Linked DNA regions of Homo sapiens: region 1 is linked to region 2. The links come from fine-mapping of genetic effects on gene expression. A gene starts in region 2. The other region holds a variant in brackets. All regions are shown on one strand. Distances are between the middles of the regions. Region 1 holds the start of CIMIP2B (ciliary microtubule inner protein 2B). Region 2 holds the start of TESK1 (testis associated actin remodelling kinase 1).

The links.
Region 1: its variant is fine-mapped to the expression of TESK1 in skeletal muscle (GTEx, PIP 0.94).

Annotation. Positions count from the first base shown.
Region 1 is chr9:35,563,290-35,571,621 of GRCh38, reverse strand. It overlaps CIMIP2B (ciliary microtubule inner protein 2B), which reads left to right and starts at 7,744. Exons shown (of 6, transcript NM_001164310.3): 1 at 7,744-7,855; 2 at 8,233-8,332. The coding sequence starts at 7,794. RefSeq lists an enhancer at 1,990-2,149. The variant C/T (reference allele first, on the strand shown) is at 3,504.
Region 2 is chr9:35,600,531-35,608,862 of GRCh38, reverse strand. TESK1 (testis associated actin remodelling kinase 1) reads right to left here and starts at 3,601. Exons shown (of 10, transcript NM_006285.3): 1 at 3,025-3,601; 2 at 2,758-2,879; 3 at 2,578-2,626; 4 at 1,880-2,026; 5 at 1,454-1,536; 6 at 1,191-1,281; 7 at 852-935; 8 at 614-703; 9 at 354-468; 10 at 1. The coding sequence starts at 3,243. It overlaps MIR4667 (microRNA 4667), which reads right to left and starts at 769; the gene lies at 704-769. RefSeq lists silencers at 2,736-2,995, 2,777-3,071, 3,006-3,175, 3,196-3,495, 3,526-3,775 and an enhancer at 4,256-4,365.

The DNA of each region.
Region 1 (8,332 bases), 37 kb after region 2:
ATCTGGCTAATTTTTTATTTTTAGTAGAGACAAGGTCTCACTGTGTTGCCCAGGCTGATCTCAAATTCCTGGGCTCAAGTGATCCTCCTGCCTTGGCCTCCCAAAATGCTGGGATTACGGGCATGAGCTACCACACTTGGCTCTACTAGTCTTAATGTATATTATTCTTTTACAATATTACTAGACTTGTGTAGTTCATACTATGTGCCAGACACTTGTGCTTGATGCTGAGGATATAATCATGAACAAGATAGACAGACATGGTTTCTGCCCTTACTGAGCTGTCAGTCAATTCAGGGGTGATAAAGAGCAGAACATTTGCCACCACTCCCCTCATCTGAAGCTTTGGCAGAAATCACTCAAAACATGCTGTCTTGCAGAGTCTTGGAAGATCTCAGAAAGGGGACTGGGATCCTTTATTGGCATCTGCTATGAATTGGAGGAAAGATGACAGTGATAGTAAGCATCCTGCTTTTTTGCTGTTGCTAGTTTGATGTTTTATTTGGTGGCATTTTTTATCTGTAGAACTTGTGTGAGGTTTGTTAGGTATTGAATTTGTTGTCTTGAATTAAGTTTTTGCTAATTTTGTAAATCAAGTGGCGTGTGGGTCTTTTGGTAGGGGCATCTACTTGACCACTTTTTCCATTCTTTCTTTTTCTTTTTGAGACAGGGTTTCCGTCACCCAGGCTGGAGTGCAGTGATGCAATCATGGCTCACTGCAGCCTCAGCTTCCTGGGCCGAGGTGATTTTCTCACCTCAGCATCCTGAGTAGCTAGGACTACACGCCACCATGCCTGGCTGATTTTTTAAAAATTTTTTGTAGAGATGAAGTCTTACTATGTTGCCCAGGCTGGTCTAGAACTCCTGGGCTCAAGCAATCCTGAACCTTGGCCTCCGAAAATGCTGGGATTACAGATGTGAGTCACTGCACCTGGCCCAATTCTTTCTATTGTTATTTTATTCAGATGTTCCATCATTTTGAGTTGATTTTGATTTATATTTTCCAAGACAATATTCATTCTTATTGACATTTTCTAGTTTATTTATATAGAGTTTCACTAGTATTCTTTTGTAGTTAAAACACAAATTCCTGGCTGGGCGCGGTGGCTCATGCCTGTAATCCCAGCACTTTGGGAGGCCGAAGCAGGTGGATCACGAAGTCAAGAGATCAAGACCATCCTGGCCAACATAGTGAAACCCTGTCTCTACTAAAAATACAAAAATTAGCTGGGCGTGGTGGCGCATACCTGTAATTCTAGCTACTTGGGAGGCTGAGGCAGGAGAATTGCTTGAACCCCGGAGGCGGAGGTTGCAGTGAGCCGAGATTGCGCCACTGCACTCCAGCCTGGCGACAGAGCGAGACTCCATCTCAAAAACAAAAACAAAACAAAAAAACCCCCCACAAATTCCTATGTGCCTGTTTTTAGCCACTTCCTCAATCTGTTAGGGGTGTTGTATAGTCTTTCTCTTGGCTAACTTTGCCAGCAGTTTGCTTGTTTTGTTGTTGTTTTAAACAACTCTTATAACAGTTCAATTGTTTTTCTGTTTTCTGATTTATTGGTTTCTATCAGTTTCATTCTCCTATATTTGTTAGCTTTATGACGTTCTTCTTTTTCTAGCCTTTTGAATTGACTGCTTAGTTATTAGCTAGTTAATTTAGTTAGCTGGCTAGTTGCTTTTAGACTCATTTGCCTGGCTAGTCTGTCTGCAGCCTGTCCTGCTGAAGCCATCATGGTCTGCACACATGCCCTCCTCCCTCCCCAGCTGCCTGGTTGAGGTGGTGGCCTCTGCATCTGCAGTGAGGCCAGGCCGAGAGAGATGAGTGAGGTCAGGATGGTGATGCTCACCTGTGTCTGTTTCTCTTTCCTTCTGGGACGCATGGGAGACTATACTTCTGAGTTGCAAAATGTGAACAACTGGTAAGTCAGGTAAAAGTGACATTTGTCTTGCAACTTTTCTATAGGTTTGATATCGAAACTCTGGGTAATTCTGCAGCACACTCTGCTTAAGCAATCACTGTTGTAGAGATGATGGGGGATGTGGGGTGTAGAAATTTCCTGATGAACACATGCATACCAGAGTTATCAGGGAGTAGAAACTAATAGTGACAAGTCCATTTGGAAAAGGGAGCGAGAGAGACAGATAGAGACAGACGGAGTTGAGCAGATGTGCAGAGAGAAGCACCTGGCCCCAGGGTGAGAGTGAAAATAGCTGCCTCAGCTCCTGTTCACTTTCACGTTCTCAATTCCCGTTTCACGAGGCCTAGCTATATGGCAGTCTGTACAGTATACAGTTCCTTCCTTGGATACTCAGGAAATCTATCCATTCTTAAGATATCCTCTCTTCCTTCCACTCTTGGCTTTCTTCTTTTACTTGGACCAGCCAAGGTAGGCAATTGTTTCTTAGAGCAGCTCCCACTAGAACATTTGTTAGTAATGATATTGATAGTTTATTTATTATTGTGCTTTATTGTACCGTTTAAGTTAATCCTTACACTATTAGCATTTTCATTTTATAGAGGAGGGAAAAAGAGATACAGAGAGGTTTGCTAACTTGCCCAAGGTTGTACAGCTCATAAGTGATGGAGCCAGGATCAAGCCTATATATATATATATATTTTTTTTTTTTTTTTTTTTAATTTTTTGAGACAGAATCTCTCTCTGTCGCCCAGGCTGGAGTGCAGTGGTGCGATCTCAGCTCACTACAAGCTCCACCTCCCTGGTTCACGCCATTCTCCTGCCTCAGCCTCCCCAGTAACTGGGACTACAGGCGCCTGCCACCACGCCCAGCTAATTTTTTATATTTTTAGTAGAGACGGAGTTTCACCGTGTTAGCCAGGACGGTCTTGATCTGACCTTGTGATCCACCTGCCTCGGCTTCCCAAAGTGCTGGGATTACAGGTGTGAGCCACCACACCCAGCAGGATCAAGTCTATATTCTTAATCATGAGGCCAGTATGTGTTTGAGGCTAAAAGTTGCCTCTGAATTCATCTTTGATTGAATTCTCATTTATTTATAAATAATTGTGTATAACTGGAATTTTTTCTTTGCCCCAAGGGTTAAGGTGTTTTTGTTTTTTTTTTAATTTTAATTTTTATTTCTTTAAGAGACAGGGTCTCACTGTGTTGCCTGGGCTGGAGTGCAGTGGCTATTCACAGATGTGATCATAGCGCCGCCCTACAGCTTCAAATTTCTGGGCTCAAGCCATCCTCCCGCCTCAGCTTCCCAAGCAGCTGGGATTACAGGAATGCACCACCACGCCCAGCTCAAGGGAGTATTTTTAAATGTCTAAGTGTTAGGTTGGTTGTTTGTTTAGCCTATTTTAAAATTTTAAAATTGTGTTTGTGTGAGGAAATGTGGTTTATTGTGCTTCTTGGAATTTTTGAGATTTTTCTTCATGGCCTATTATAAGATCAGTTGTTTTTGTTTAGATCTTCATTGTGGTATTTATTTTATTCTGCCTTTCTCTGTACCTCTGTCTCTTCTTTAAAGTGGTTCGATCA[C/T]TGAGGTCAGGCATTGTCTGTATTGATCTATAAGGCAACTGCCTAGTAGAAATATTTAATAAGTAGGCTGAATAAATGAATATTGATCCTTGTGGATTTGAGGAGTGTTATATACATAAAAAATCCAGGCCAGGTGCGGTGGCTCACGCCTGTAATTCCAGCACTTTGGGAGGCTGAGGAGGGTGGATCGCTTTAACCCAGGAGTTCAAGACCAGCTTGGACATGGTGAAACCCTATCTCTATAAAAAAAAAAAAATACAAAAATTAGCCGGGTGTGGTGGCATGCACCTGTAGTCCCAGCTACTCTGGAGGCTGAGGTGGGAGGATCACTTGAGCCCAGGAAGCGAAGGTTGTAGTGAGCTGAGATTATGCCACTGCACTCCAGCTTAGGTGACAGAGTGAGACCCTATCTCAAAAAAAGAAAAAAACCAAAAAGGTAGAAAAAGGTAGAATAGAGACCAGGCCATTTCCTTTCCTTCGATCCCTCCAAATACCATGATTCCTTGTCATTTCTACTTGGATTCCCTCCACCACACCTCTTTGGACCTCAAAAGCATAGATTTCAATTGTCATAATCTTTGGTTTGGCACATTCTCATCATTAGTTCATACTTTGTTATAATGTATGCATTATAAGCATTTTTTTTTTTTTGATACAGAGTCATGCTCTGTCACCCAGGCTGGAGTGCAGTGGCATGATCTCGGCTCACTGCAACCTCTGCCTCCTGGTTCAAGTGATTCTTCTGCCTCAGCCTCCCAAGTAGCTGGGATTACAGGTGTGTGCCACCACACCTGGCTAATTTTTGTATGTTTAGTAGAGATGGGGTTTTGCCATATTGGCCAGGCTGGTCTCGAATTCCTGACCTCAAGTAATCTGCCCACCTTGGCCTCCCCAGGTGTTGGGATTACAGGCATGAGACACTGCACCTGGCCCATTATAAGCATTTTTGAAAACATCATCCCAAACAAAAACTGAAACTTTGACAATAACATACATCTAACTATGTGGTTCCCCCTTTCCCACCCCTTTTGTTTCTCACCATCTGAGGTGAGCATTTGAAACCCATTTTTATCATTCCCTTGCTTTCCTTTTTATGCAGTTTTATGCATCTGCATGTATTTTTCAAACTAAAAAAGGTTTTGTGTTGCATGTAATCTTTTGGAGTTTATTCAATTCTTGTTTCAATTTTGGTGGACTGTTGATTTCAGGAATTTTTTCAAAGGTCCTGTGATTTTCTTTTATTCATCCTTGCAGAGGGGATTTATGCTTGCCTAGGGTTGACATACAATCAAATGATTGATTTGGGATCTGTATGAAATTTTATAGCAGTTCCTGGTCAGAATCAAAGGCAGAACAGAAGGCTATAGGCTGCCATTGTGGGGACCCAGCAGGCTGTGTGGACTGAGTGGGGCGCTGTCTCCAGTTAAACATTTTCTCTCCACTGCCACATCCAACACTGGCCACTGGGTGTGGCAGCTCCCATCAGAGCAAGTTGTGGTCATGTTTCTGTGATGTCTGTCCCTGGAAGGAGGCACAGAGGCAGCAAGCATTCCTGTGGTGCCTCAGCTGGCCCCGTCACTCCTTTCTCAGATTAGAACACCCTTCAGGGATCTAGAAATATTCTTTATTCAGATGGAAACAATCATAGTAACAGGCCATTCTACCAATTGGATAGAGCTGTTTCTTCATAAGCCATAAACCTAAGACTAATCCTAATCTGTTTCCTAACTTGTGTTTTAACGCATACCCGGATTCTAACTGCCATGGTCTTTTCTGCAGAATGTGTTCTAGTCCCTACATCCTAATTTATACCCCAACTTCCATTCAAACCTTTCCCTTTTTCAATTTCATGAACCTTTCCCCTGAACCTCTAACATCTGTGACTGCTCCCAGCTCCTTTCCTTCCTCCCATTCCTGCCAAATGCTAGCCGTGAATTGCTGTTTAGTTAGCACTTACCGTAAGCTAGACGCTGGGGTCATTGCTCATTGTGTATCATCTCAGCTAGCTGATATCCTACTCTATGAGATGGTAACATTAGTTTTTCCATTTTACAGATGAGAAAACTGAGGCTCAATGAGATGAATTTGGACAAAGTCTATATCTCTGGTGAAGCTAGGATTTGATCTAGTGGTGTTTTTTTGTTTTGTTTTGTTTTTGAGACGGAGTCTCACTCTGTTGCCCAAGCTGGAGTGCAATGTGCGATCTCAGCTCACTGCAAGCTCCACCTCCTGGGTTCATGTGATTCTCCTGCCTCAACCTCCTGAGTAGCTGGGACTACAGGTGCCCACCACCACGCTTGGCTAATTTTTGTATTTTTAGTAGAGACAGGATTTCACTATGTTGGCCAGGCTGGTCTCGAACTCATGACCTTGTGATCCTCCTGCCTCGGCCTCCCAAAGTGCTGGGATTAAGGGTGTGAGCCACCGTGCCTGGCTGTTTTGTTTTTTAAAGTTATGATGCCTTTGGCTGTAAGTGAAAGAAAACTTAAAGTGGCCTTAATAATGAAATTTACTATTTGACATAAAAAGGCTGATTAATTCCATGGCTCTACATTACCCTCAGGACCCTGGCCTTTCTCCTCTACCATCCATCCTTGATGTGTCCAGGACTTGTCTTCAGGTTAGCTTTCCACAAGGCTTCCACATGCCTGCCAGCATTCCAGCCTCACATCCCCCAAAAGTCTAGGGGCAGGAATGGACATCGTTTCGTCTTGCGCATCTCTGTCTCTCTCACTTGCTCTAATTTGATGTGAATCTTTTCTTTAAGAGCAAAGAAACTTTTCCCAGGACCCTCCCCTGCCCCAGCAGATTTCCCCTCATATTATCCAGAATGCTGGAAGCCCGTGCCTAAGCGGTCATGGGGAAGGAGCATGGGACCACGCTTAGACTAATCCAGCTCATTCCTCCAGGCTGGCTCTCCAAGCCTCCCTGATGCAGTTTCTGGCTCCTCGGAAGAAAGGAGATGGGGGTCAGGAATAGGTATAAGCTGTGATAGTGTCTGTCACAGAATCCCAAGTCTGGTTGTTAAGCTTGACACACTGCTGCTATTCTGGGCTTGCCCCTCGGCTCCCATCCTCACTCTAACATATTTCCTCAGCTGTGAGGTAAGTCCCCACAACTCTAAATGACACATTCTAAGGCTGTCCTTGGCAGAACAGTGAGGAACATGAAATGTGTGCCTTGGAGCCCAGTGCTCTTATGTAATTCCCCTGGGATGTCAGTGCCGTCCTTGGTCAGCGCAGGCATGGTCACTGGAGGTGGGGAGAAGAGCAGAGCTCTGCCTCAGAAACGTGGGCCCTGAGCCCTCAGCCTGGCCCTGACCCAGCCCCAGAACTTTTTGTTTTGTTTTGTTTTTTGAGGTGGGGTCTGGCTGTGTTGCCCAGTTTGGACTGAAACTCCCGGACCCAAGTGATCCTCCCACCTCAGCCTCCTCAGTACGTTGATGTGAGCGTGGCTGCACCCGGCCCAGAGTTGGGTTTTAAACATGTTTCCCCGTCCTCTGAGATCTCATCTTCCTGGTCTGTGCTTTTTCTTCTCTTAGAATCCGAATTTTTTATTTTATTTTATTTTTTTAACAAATTCTAACTTGCTCCCTAGTGTTACCGCCCACACCTACAACAACTTTATCCTGTTTCCTTCCCTCAACCCCCACAGCTTTTCTGGCTCCCATGGAGTGCACACTCGGCCACTGTGGCCGGAGCCTGGCAGAGCCTGGCTCATTTGTTGAATGGATGACTCTGATTATAGCAGGTATTCAGTAAGCCACTCTTGTTAAATTATTGAAAATAAACGATGTTACTCCCTAGAGGTGTCTAGGTTCCTTTTTTTCCCCCATCACCTGTCCTCTTTCACCTCCCCTCTGGGCCCTGGCTTCCCTCAAAGATCCTTTCTCCAGGTCCCCCATCTCCTTTGATGAAGACTCATGAGGAACACAGTGTCCACCTCTCAGGCAGGCGCTCAGGAAGGAAGTCGCTGAGACAGAGCTCAGTGGCCCGAATGGTTTCTGCTCCCTCACCTCCCACGTCCCACCTCCCACGTCCCACCTCAGGGCTTCCTTCGGTTCGGGCCCTGCCCCACGAGCAGGACCACCTTTGTCCTGGACAGACAGACCTGCTAGCCTCTGCTCTACAGTTCTGCCGGCCTTCGCCCTGGCTGTCCTCACACGAGTGCCCCCTCCCTTCTCTCCTCCCTTAGCCCCGCCTCCTTCCTCTAGCCCCACAGCCCTGGACACGGTACACACAGACCAGAGCCTTGGCTCAAAGGCAAACAAAAGGAAATGCCCGGCTCCCCATGGCTGTGGCCAGCACCTTCATACCAGGGCTCAACCCTCAGAACCCTCATTATATCCCAGGGTAAGACTCCCACTTAGCGCTCCCCGCTTGCTGCTGGGAGTAGGGGTATAGGGTGGAGGAATTAAGCTGCTTAGAGCATGGGGCCAAGCGGACAGGTTGGTTTGGGAGGCTGAGGTCTCTATGGTGGTGGATGGAAAAGGAGAAGCAAGGGACTAGTGAGACACCGGGTCTGCCCCAAAGCTTTGTGTTGTTCTCTCCATGGGAACAGGGTAACAGCAGAGGAAGGATCGAAAGCCCAGGCAGAGAACTTAGAAATGCCTGCTCCAAATATATACACTGCTGAGTCCAGAAAGATCAGGGCTTCAGAGGTCTCCGCTTCTGCCTCTGGGGATGGCGGGGCAGGGCGATTCTGGTGAGTGGGAGAGTCTGTGCTGCAGGTACACTGGACACTGCCCACTACTTCGGTTCAGCGTGGGCCAGACCTATGGGCAGGTGACTGGTCAGCTACTTCGAGGCCCTCCTGGCCTAGCCTGGCCC
Region 2 (8,332 bases):
CCTGTAGATAGAGAAGTCTGGAATCACTGTCCTCAGCATTTGATCACAGCTCCTTGAGGGCCTCACTATTCTCCAGGAGGCTGGTGGGACTAGAGCTTGAAAAAGGGAGTCCCACCTGGTGCTTTGGAAAGGGGTGATGTCATCTCCAGGCCCCTTTTACTTCTTTCCCCTCCTCTCCCTCAAGCTTTAGCATTAGGAAACTGTCTTCTTGGAGATGTCCTCCCACCCTACCCCAGCCCGACCCCCAGCCTTTTCAACTAATAAATATACTTAGCCTCCCCCATGTCACCTCTGAATTCTAGGGAGGACAAAGGCCAAAGGACTCAAGCTGGATCAAGGTCAGGCTCCCTTACCCTGATTGTGTGTCAGGGCGGTCCTGGTGAGTGGGGCTGGCTCAGGCAGCTGCTCCAGGATCCATTCCAGGTGCTGGGTAATTTCGGTGAAGGGGGCACGGGTGCTGGGTTCCAGCTGATGGGTAGAGACAGGAACGGCTTCACTCAGTGCTCCGAAAGAGGGTCTCTGAGTTTCCTCCCATCACCTGGGTCCCACAGGGCAGCCATGGCAGCTTACGGATGGGGGCAGGGTGGGGCAGGAAGGAGTGTGAGGCTCTTACGTTGCAGCAGTGGATGGCCAGGAGCAAGAAAGGCAGTGGGCAGTCATCCCCCACCAGAGTTCGGAAAGCAGGCACATCCAGGCCAAAGTCCTGTGGGGACAGAAGGAGGGACCTCCAAGTCAGCTTTTCTTGGGTTCTCCTTCTGCTCCCCAGTCAGAACCTCAACCTCTAGGGAATCCTCCTTGGTTATGAGCCAGCTAGTCTGGAATTCTTTCTTTGCAAACCTAGAAACATTCACCTCAGTGCGTGGTAGGTAGTCAGGGTCTGCAGGTACTCGGGCGATGAGCTCACAGAGGACAATCCCGAAGGCAAAGACATCAGCCTGGGGGTCAGAGATAATAGTGTCGGGGAAGAATTAACAGTTTTCATTTCAGAATTTTGACAGAATATAGCAGAATTTGGTTGAGGGTGGGGGATCTTGACAGTTTTCATGTGTTAGAAGGGTGCCTGTGAGGGGCAAAGGGATCTTGGGGACTCCTGAAGATCTGGTAGGGTTGTTTTGGGGATGGATGGGGCTTTATGAGAATACCTCAAGGGTCTCGGAAGGCCTTGGGGATCTGAAGGGTTGATGTCTCACCTTCTCATCATACAGCTCACCCCGTAACACCTCTGGAGCCATCCAGTATGGGGAGCCCACCACGGCCAATGGCTCCTTCCTTGCCCCCTCCCTGCAGGGGCAGGGGCAGAGTGGTCAGAAGCATCCTATTCAGGCATCCCCCCCAGGCAAAAGGGGATGAGGTGAACTCCCTCCGTTCCCCAAGGGAAACATCCCTGGGGCTCTGGGGACATCAGATAGGGGCACTCTGGGAGATTTGGGGGGAACAGGGACATTCATCTCACCTATACACAGGAATCTTTTCGGCCAGCCCGAAGTCACCCACGACAGCGGTGAAGCCTCGATCTTCCCGTCGGACTAGACAGTTCTGACACACACACACATAGTATCCCCACGCACTCATCACCTTCTGCTGTCTGGCCTCCCAATGTATAACCCAAAGCCCTGTCACTCCAGCATAACTCCAACCCTCTCTGCTCTCCCAGTTTTTCAAGGCACTTCAATATTGCAACATCATCCAACACTCCAAACACAGGGTGCTACTCAGTCCCTCCGAGCACTCCCCTCACCCTGGTCCCCCAATATTCTCCAATGCCTTGCCACTCCAACATCCTAATATATCTGTTATCCATATTCCAACATCCACAGGCCAGTTACAACCTAATAGCCTCAAACCCTCTTTCATGTCTCCACCCACCCTGCTAGCCTACCTTGGATGTGAGGTCGCGGTGAAATACACCTTTGGAGTGCAGGTACCGCAGGCCTCGGGCAATGTCCAGGGCCAGGTGGAGCCTGACCGGCCAGGACAGGGGTTCAGGGGAGCTGAGCAGCTGTTCCAATGTCCCCCCATTCATATACTGGTGCATAGGAGGAGAATGGGAATAGATGTCAGACTTCAGTCTGTATTCTAGGTCCCCCACTTACACGCTAGGGGACACTCCCGAGGATCACAGAGGTCATAGGGGTAAGACTGTGCTGTAGGACCCCCCCCATCCATGTTCTAGGATTGCCCCGTTCAACTCAATAGCCATTAGCCATGTGCAACAATTTAAATAATTTAAAAAATTTTTTAATCAAGTTGACCCACAAAAAATAATCTAAACAATGAAAATAATTTAAATTTAACCACATGTGGCTAGTGGCTACTGTATTGGACAGCACAGATAGAGAACATTTCCGTCACTGAAGAAAATTCTATTGGACAGCACTGTTCTAGGGGATACAGAGAATAAGACCAGTTGAGGCCTTTTATATGTGGTTTGCCTAAAGGAAAGTTCAGGAAAGCCTCCCCTGAGAGGAGATCCTGTTGCCTCTCACTAGTCCTCCGTAGATCCACCAGGCCTGTTGACTCCCTTTATCCTTGGGGGTGAAGGGGGGTGGGGATCCCTCCTTCCTGGCCTATCCTCACCTCTGTAAGAGCGTGCAGCTGTCCCTGGTGCACACAGACTCCCATGAACCTGCAAGAGGATGGGGAAGATAGAAGGATAGGCTATTAAAGGCCTCAGCTCCTCCTCAGTTCCACTTTTCCCGCGGGATCTTTCCCTTTCTCTCCCGCCCAGCAAGCTGCCCAGAGACTGGGGCCGCTCACCTTAGGATGTTGGGGTGCCTGAGCCGGTTCATCAGCTGCACTTCCCGTAGTGTGTTGCCCCGGTTACTGGGGAGCTTGTTCATCTTCAGCACCATGACTTGCCCTGACTGTCGGTGCCGAACCTGGGGGCAGGAGCAGCCGGCGAGGGCCGGGCAGGTCGGGCGGGTCGCCGGAGTCTGGACCCTCTTCCCCGCACTCCCGGCCCCCTAGTTTCAGCCTCTGGTTGAAGGCTCGGTCCCGCCCCTCTGCCCTCTCGGCCGGTCCTACCTTGTAGACCTCAGAGAAGAAGCCGGCCCCGATCTTCTCCGCGCAGTGAAAATCGTCCACACGCGCCAGGCTAGACACGGCGCTGCGGAGAGCCCGGTAGGAGGAGGGGCGGCCCCGGCCCGGGCCTCCGCCCGTGCCCCCCGGCCCCGGGGGCCCCTCCCCCGGCACCTCTCCAGGCCCGGGCCCAGGGCCCCGCAGTGGGGGCCGTTCCCCGGCCATGGCCGGGCCCCCAGCCCGGGCCTGCCTCACATGGCAGGGTCCCCAGGGCCCGGGCAGGCCGCGCTTGCCATGGGCGCGGGCCCAGCCCGATCCCGGGCGCCCGGACTCCGGCTCCCGCCCTGAGAATGGAAGATCCGCCGAAGATCCTGGACCCGCCCCCGCCGCGCCGGCTGGCTGGGCCCGGGTGGACGCCGCGCCGCTCCGCTCCGCGCAGGGCCTGGGCTTGGGCCTGGACCGGGCGGTGGCGGTGACGGTGGCGGCAGCGCTCCGGGGCGCCGGCGGGCTGGCTTGCCGCGGGCGGAGGCGGGCGGGCGGGCGGGCGGCGGCTGCTCCGCTTAGCCGCCGGGGATCAGGCTCCGCGGCCTGCCGGGGGCGGGGCTGGGCCGGGCCTCCGCTTAACTCCTTCCAGCCCGGCCTCCCGGCAGCGGCCACGCCCCCTCAGGTGCGCACCCCCGCCTCCCCGCTTTCCGGCCGCGATGCCCTGGGCCGCCCGGGTCAAATAAGCTCCGGCCTGAGCTTGAATAACGGGAGGGAATTAAGGGCTGATGGTGCGCATGCGAAGCTTAGCTGCCCAGGGAGTCCCCTCTCCTCCCTGGGTTACTGTCCGTTGAGGGTCGGGCTCAGAAACCTGCCGGATTCCTGGGCTCCAGGGACCAACGGGGCAGAAAGGTAGGCCCCTCAGGCCCAGCCGCAATCAGAGGTAGCCTAGCAACCTGTCCACCTTCCTGGCCTGCGCCCCGGCCCAGCCTGCCCATTTCCCAGGTCTCTTCGACTCCGACACCTTGAACCTCTGGCCTCCCTAACACCTTCTACCTTCACGGGAGGTTGTGATACCCCGGGGCTATAGGAAGCCTTTGGCCGGCCCATACCCAGCTTAGCCCCGACTCCTCCTCACTTCATCCTGCCGCCTCCCAATAAAGAAGAGAGTCCAGGTCCTCCGCCCTGTGACCACCCAGCCGGGACCTCCCTCTTACTACTTTGCCCAAAAGACTCTAAGAGAGAAGCCTCCACCTGCAGGGAAGCCCGTCCTTCCGCAAGATCCCACCCCCCTCAAAGAACGCTGTCCCTCGGAGACCCCTCCCTTCCTCAGTGAGACACCTCCCTTTCGGGGGCACTTTTCCCCAGTGTGGCACTGCCACCGTCAGTGTGTCAGAACCCCTCAGTGCTGCACCCCCTTGCTCTGTGTTCCTCCCACGCAGTGAGACCCCACCTCCGAGGAAATCCACTAGTCATTGTGACCCCTCCTCTCAAGGTGACTCCTCCCCTCAGTGTGACCCAGCCCTCCTCAGTGTGAGGGTTCCGCCCTCCACGTAGGAACACGGTCTGCCCCCTAAGGCCGGAGGAGGGGCTGCAACTGGCCTCTTTAAGTCGGCGCGGTGCCTGGGTGCGCACGCAGTCTCAGGACTCCGTGCACTCGCCGTACCAGACGCTTCCGGTTCTGCCGCTGGTTCCTCCTCCGGCCTCGGCGAAATAGCCAATCATCGCTAGGGTTGGGTGGTGACACGCGATCCCGGCGGTCCACTCCGGGGCAAACGGTTTAAAAGGGCGTCGTTGAGCCGCCTGCCACCTAGCGGCGGAACGGTGGGCGGAGGGAGAGAAAGCTGCCGTCTCGAGTGCGGAGGCAGGCTGAGAGCTCCTCGAGGAAGCGAGGCTGAGTCCTGCAGGAATTCTCAAGTACTGTATTGATATTTCTGTAGTAAGCTTAAAAGAGAATTAATACAAGCACAGTCCGTATCGCGTGGGGTTACCGTCTTCCAATGGAGTCTGGTTACACGTTTATGAGACTTGGAGCCAAGAAATACTACTCGCTTGTCGAGGGCTACTGAGAAAAGAATAAAGACGGTCATAAATGATACATGATGCCTTAGAGTCAAGAGAAGGCCAGATGCTGTCTTGGTGCGCTGTACAAGGGAAGGTATTGCACAAGTTTGGAGCGAGAGGAATGGGAGACATTCGCAATCCTTCCACAGCCGGTGGAGGCAGGCCAACCTCACAGAATTGCACGGGGCACGTGCATCCTGTTCTTTTTTCTGGAGGCGTTTGGTCTTCAGCACACGCTCATTCATCACATTAATGTTAACATCTACAACTAATTTGTGAATTTGCTTTTTATTGTATGACATCTGTAAACACTAGGAATTTATGCCTCATTTTGTTTAATATCATAGATCTTTTAACCGACACTGGGTTCTGGCCCTTTATCACGTTTGAGAATTACTGTAGTAGTTGGTGATGGTAATGCCAAGCCAAAGAGCCAGGTGCCTATTTTTTGTAAGATGATTGCGGTGGTTGTATGGAGGCCGGGAGACTGATTAGGAAGGAGGCTGTGACTGTGGTTCAATCAGGAAAGGATGAGACCAGCCTGGCCAACGTAGTGAAACCCCGTCTCTACTAAAAATACAAAAAAATTAGCCTGATGTGGCGAGCGCCTGTAATTCCAGCTACTCTGGAATCTGAGGCAGGTGAATCGCTTGAACCCGGGAGGCGGAGGTTGCAGTGAGCCAAGATCGCGCCATTACACTCCTGTCTAGGCGACAAGAGCGGGACTCTGTCTCAAAAAAACCTTTTGTTGTTGTTTGTATGGTGGAAAATGTCTTAACACACACACACAGAATAGAAAAATGAATGTTTATTTACCTTGGATTAGTAAGACCATTTTGTTGGAAACCCATAGTGCAAAATTGGCTTTCCTTTGCCTCAGTTGTACTGTTGCCATATTTGACCTGGCCCAGGTGAAAGTACCTACTTTCATTTACCCTTCTATGTCAGTGATTCTCCAATGAGCAATTCATGGCCAATCTTGTTTCATCTATACCCGTGCCCTCTTCCCCACTCCATATTTGTGTATATTTCTGACATATCATTTCATCCTGTAAATGTTTCAGTACGTTATCTCTAAATGATAAGGATTCTTCTTTAAAACCAAATCACAGTATTGTCACACCAAAAAAAAACAATAGTTCCTTCATGTCATCAAGCATCCAGTTGTTTACATTTCCCTCACTGTCTTACGTTTGATTTTTAAAAATTGTTTATTTGAATCAAAATCTAAATTAGGTCTGTACTTTGCAGGTGATATGTCTGTCTGTCTGTCTCTCTTTTTGTGAGACAGGGTCTGGCTCTATCACCCAGGATGGAGTGCAGTGGGTTGATCTCGGCTCACAGCAACCTCCACCCCCGAGGCTCAAGCAATCCTGCCTCAGCCTTCTGAGTGGCTGGGACTACTGAGGTGTGGGTACCACCACACCTGTCTAATTTTTGTATTTTTGTAGAGATGGGGTTTGCCACGTTGCCCAGGCTGGTCTCAACTCCTGGGCTCAAGCATTCCATTCGCCTTGGCCTCCCAAAGTGCTGGGATTATAGGTGTGAGCCACCACACCCAGCCATATGTTTCTTAAGTCTTTGCAGATCTATGCTTATTCTCCATCTTTTTTCTTACTATTTTTTAAAACTGGTTCATTTGTCCTGTAGAGTTTCTTAGAGTCTTGATTTCTGTGGTAATTTAGCATGTTCCTCCATCCTCTGTATTTGATATAAATTGGTAACTTAATCAAATTTAGATTTCTTTTGGCAAAACTAATTTGTAGATGGTTTTAGCACTTCTATCAGGAGGTATACAGGAGGTATACAGTGGTGGTCTTTTTGTGATTTTAATAACTGATATTTGTTTCTCAACCGTGGCACTATTGACATTTTGGGCTGGAAAATTCTTTATTGTAGGGGCTGTCCTGTGTATTGTAGGATGCTTAGCAGCATCTCTGGCCTCTACCTAATGGATGCCAGTAGCACCTCCTCCTGACTGTAACAATAAAAAAATGTGTCTAGACATTGCCATTTGTCCTCTGGGGGACAAAATTGACCCTGAATAAGAACCACTGGTCTAGGTTCATTAATAGAGGAGTTAAAGCTGGGCATGGTGGCACGCGACTATAGTCCCAACTACATGGGAAGTTGAGCCGAGAGGGTTGCTTGAGCCCAGGAGTTCGAGTCCAGCCTGGGCATCATAGCAAGACCCTGTCTCAAAATAAATAAAAAGTTAGAAAATAATATTATCATTCCTTCTTTGAATGAATTCCTATAGAAGTATTAGGTAGAATAATTCTATAAGGAGAAACTTTTCCACATTAACTATTTGTTACACAGAGATACATTTCCTAGGAAAGGCAGAATAAATACTTGATTGTTTCTCACTTATTTTACCAGCTTTCAAAGTAATGAGTTGGTTCCCCAGCATCTTCCAAAGTTGACCGATGAGGTTTTTTTTAAAGTACCATTATGAACTCATAATTTAACACATATGTGATATACTCAATTATTGCTAGTTATCTTTTTTTTCTTTTTGAGACGGGTCTCACTCTTTTTCAGGCTGGAGTGCAGTGGCACAAAGCTCACTGCAACCTTGACCTCCCGGGCTCAAGTGATTCTCTCATCTCAGCCTCCCAAGTAACTGGGACTACAAGCACGTGCCATCACACCTGGCTAATTTTTAATTTTTTTGTAGAGACAGGGTCTCACCATGTTTTGCCCAGGCTGGTCTCAAACTCCTGGCCTCAAGTGATCCTCCTGCCTTGGCCTCCCAAAGTGCTGGGATTACAGACATGAGCCACTGCACCCAGCCCAGTTATTGATTGATTGATTGATTGAGATGGAGTCTTGCTCTGTCACCCAGGCTAGAGTGCAGTGGTGTGATCTCGGCTCACTGCAAACTCCGCTTCCCAGGTTCAAGCGATTCCCCTGTCTCAGCCTCCTGAGTAGCTGGGATTACAGACACCTGTCACCACGCCCGGCTGATTTTTGTATTTTTAGTAGAGACAGAGTTTCACCATGTTGGCCAGGCTGGTCTCAAACTCCTGACCTCAGGTGATCCTCCTGCCTTGGCCTCCCAAAGTGCTGGGATTACAGGCGTGAGCCACTGCGCCCAGTTATCATTTTTGGTGCTTGTCCTATTGTTACGGGATCTTTGGGGCGTCCTTTTTCTGGCCAGAAACCTCTGTGGCTGGTGGTGCTTTTGCCCCAGTTTTGCTCAGGCCCTCTGGGCTTGTTTCGCCTACCCAGCCTGGCAGCCTGTGCTTGGCTCACGCTACCAGCC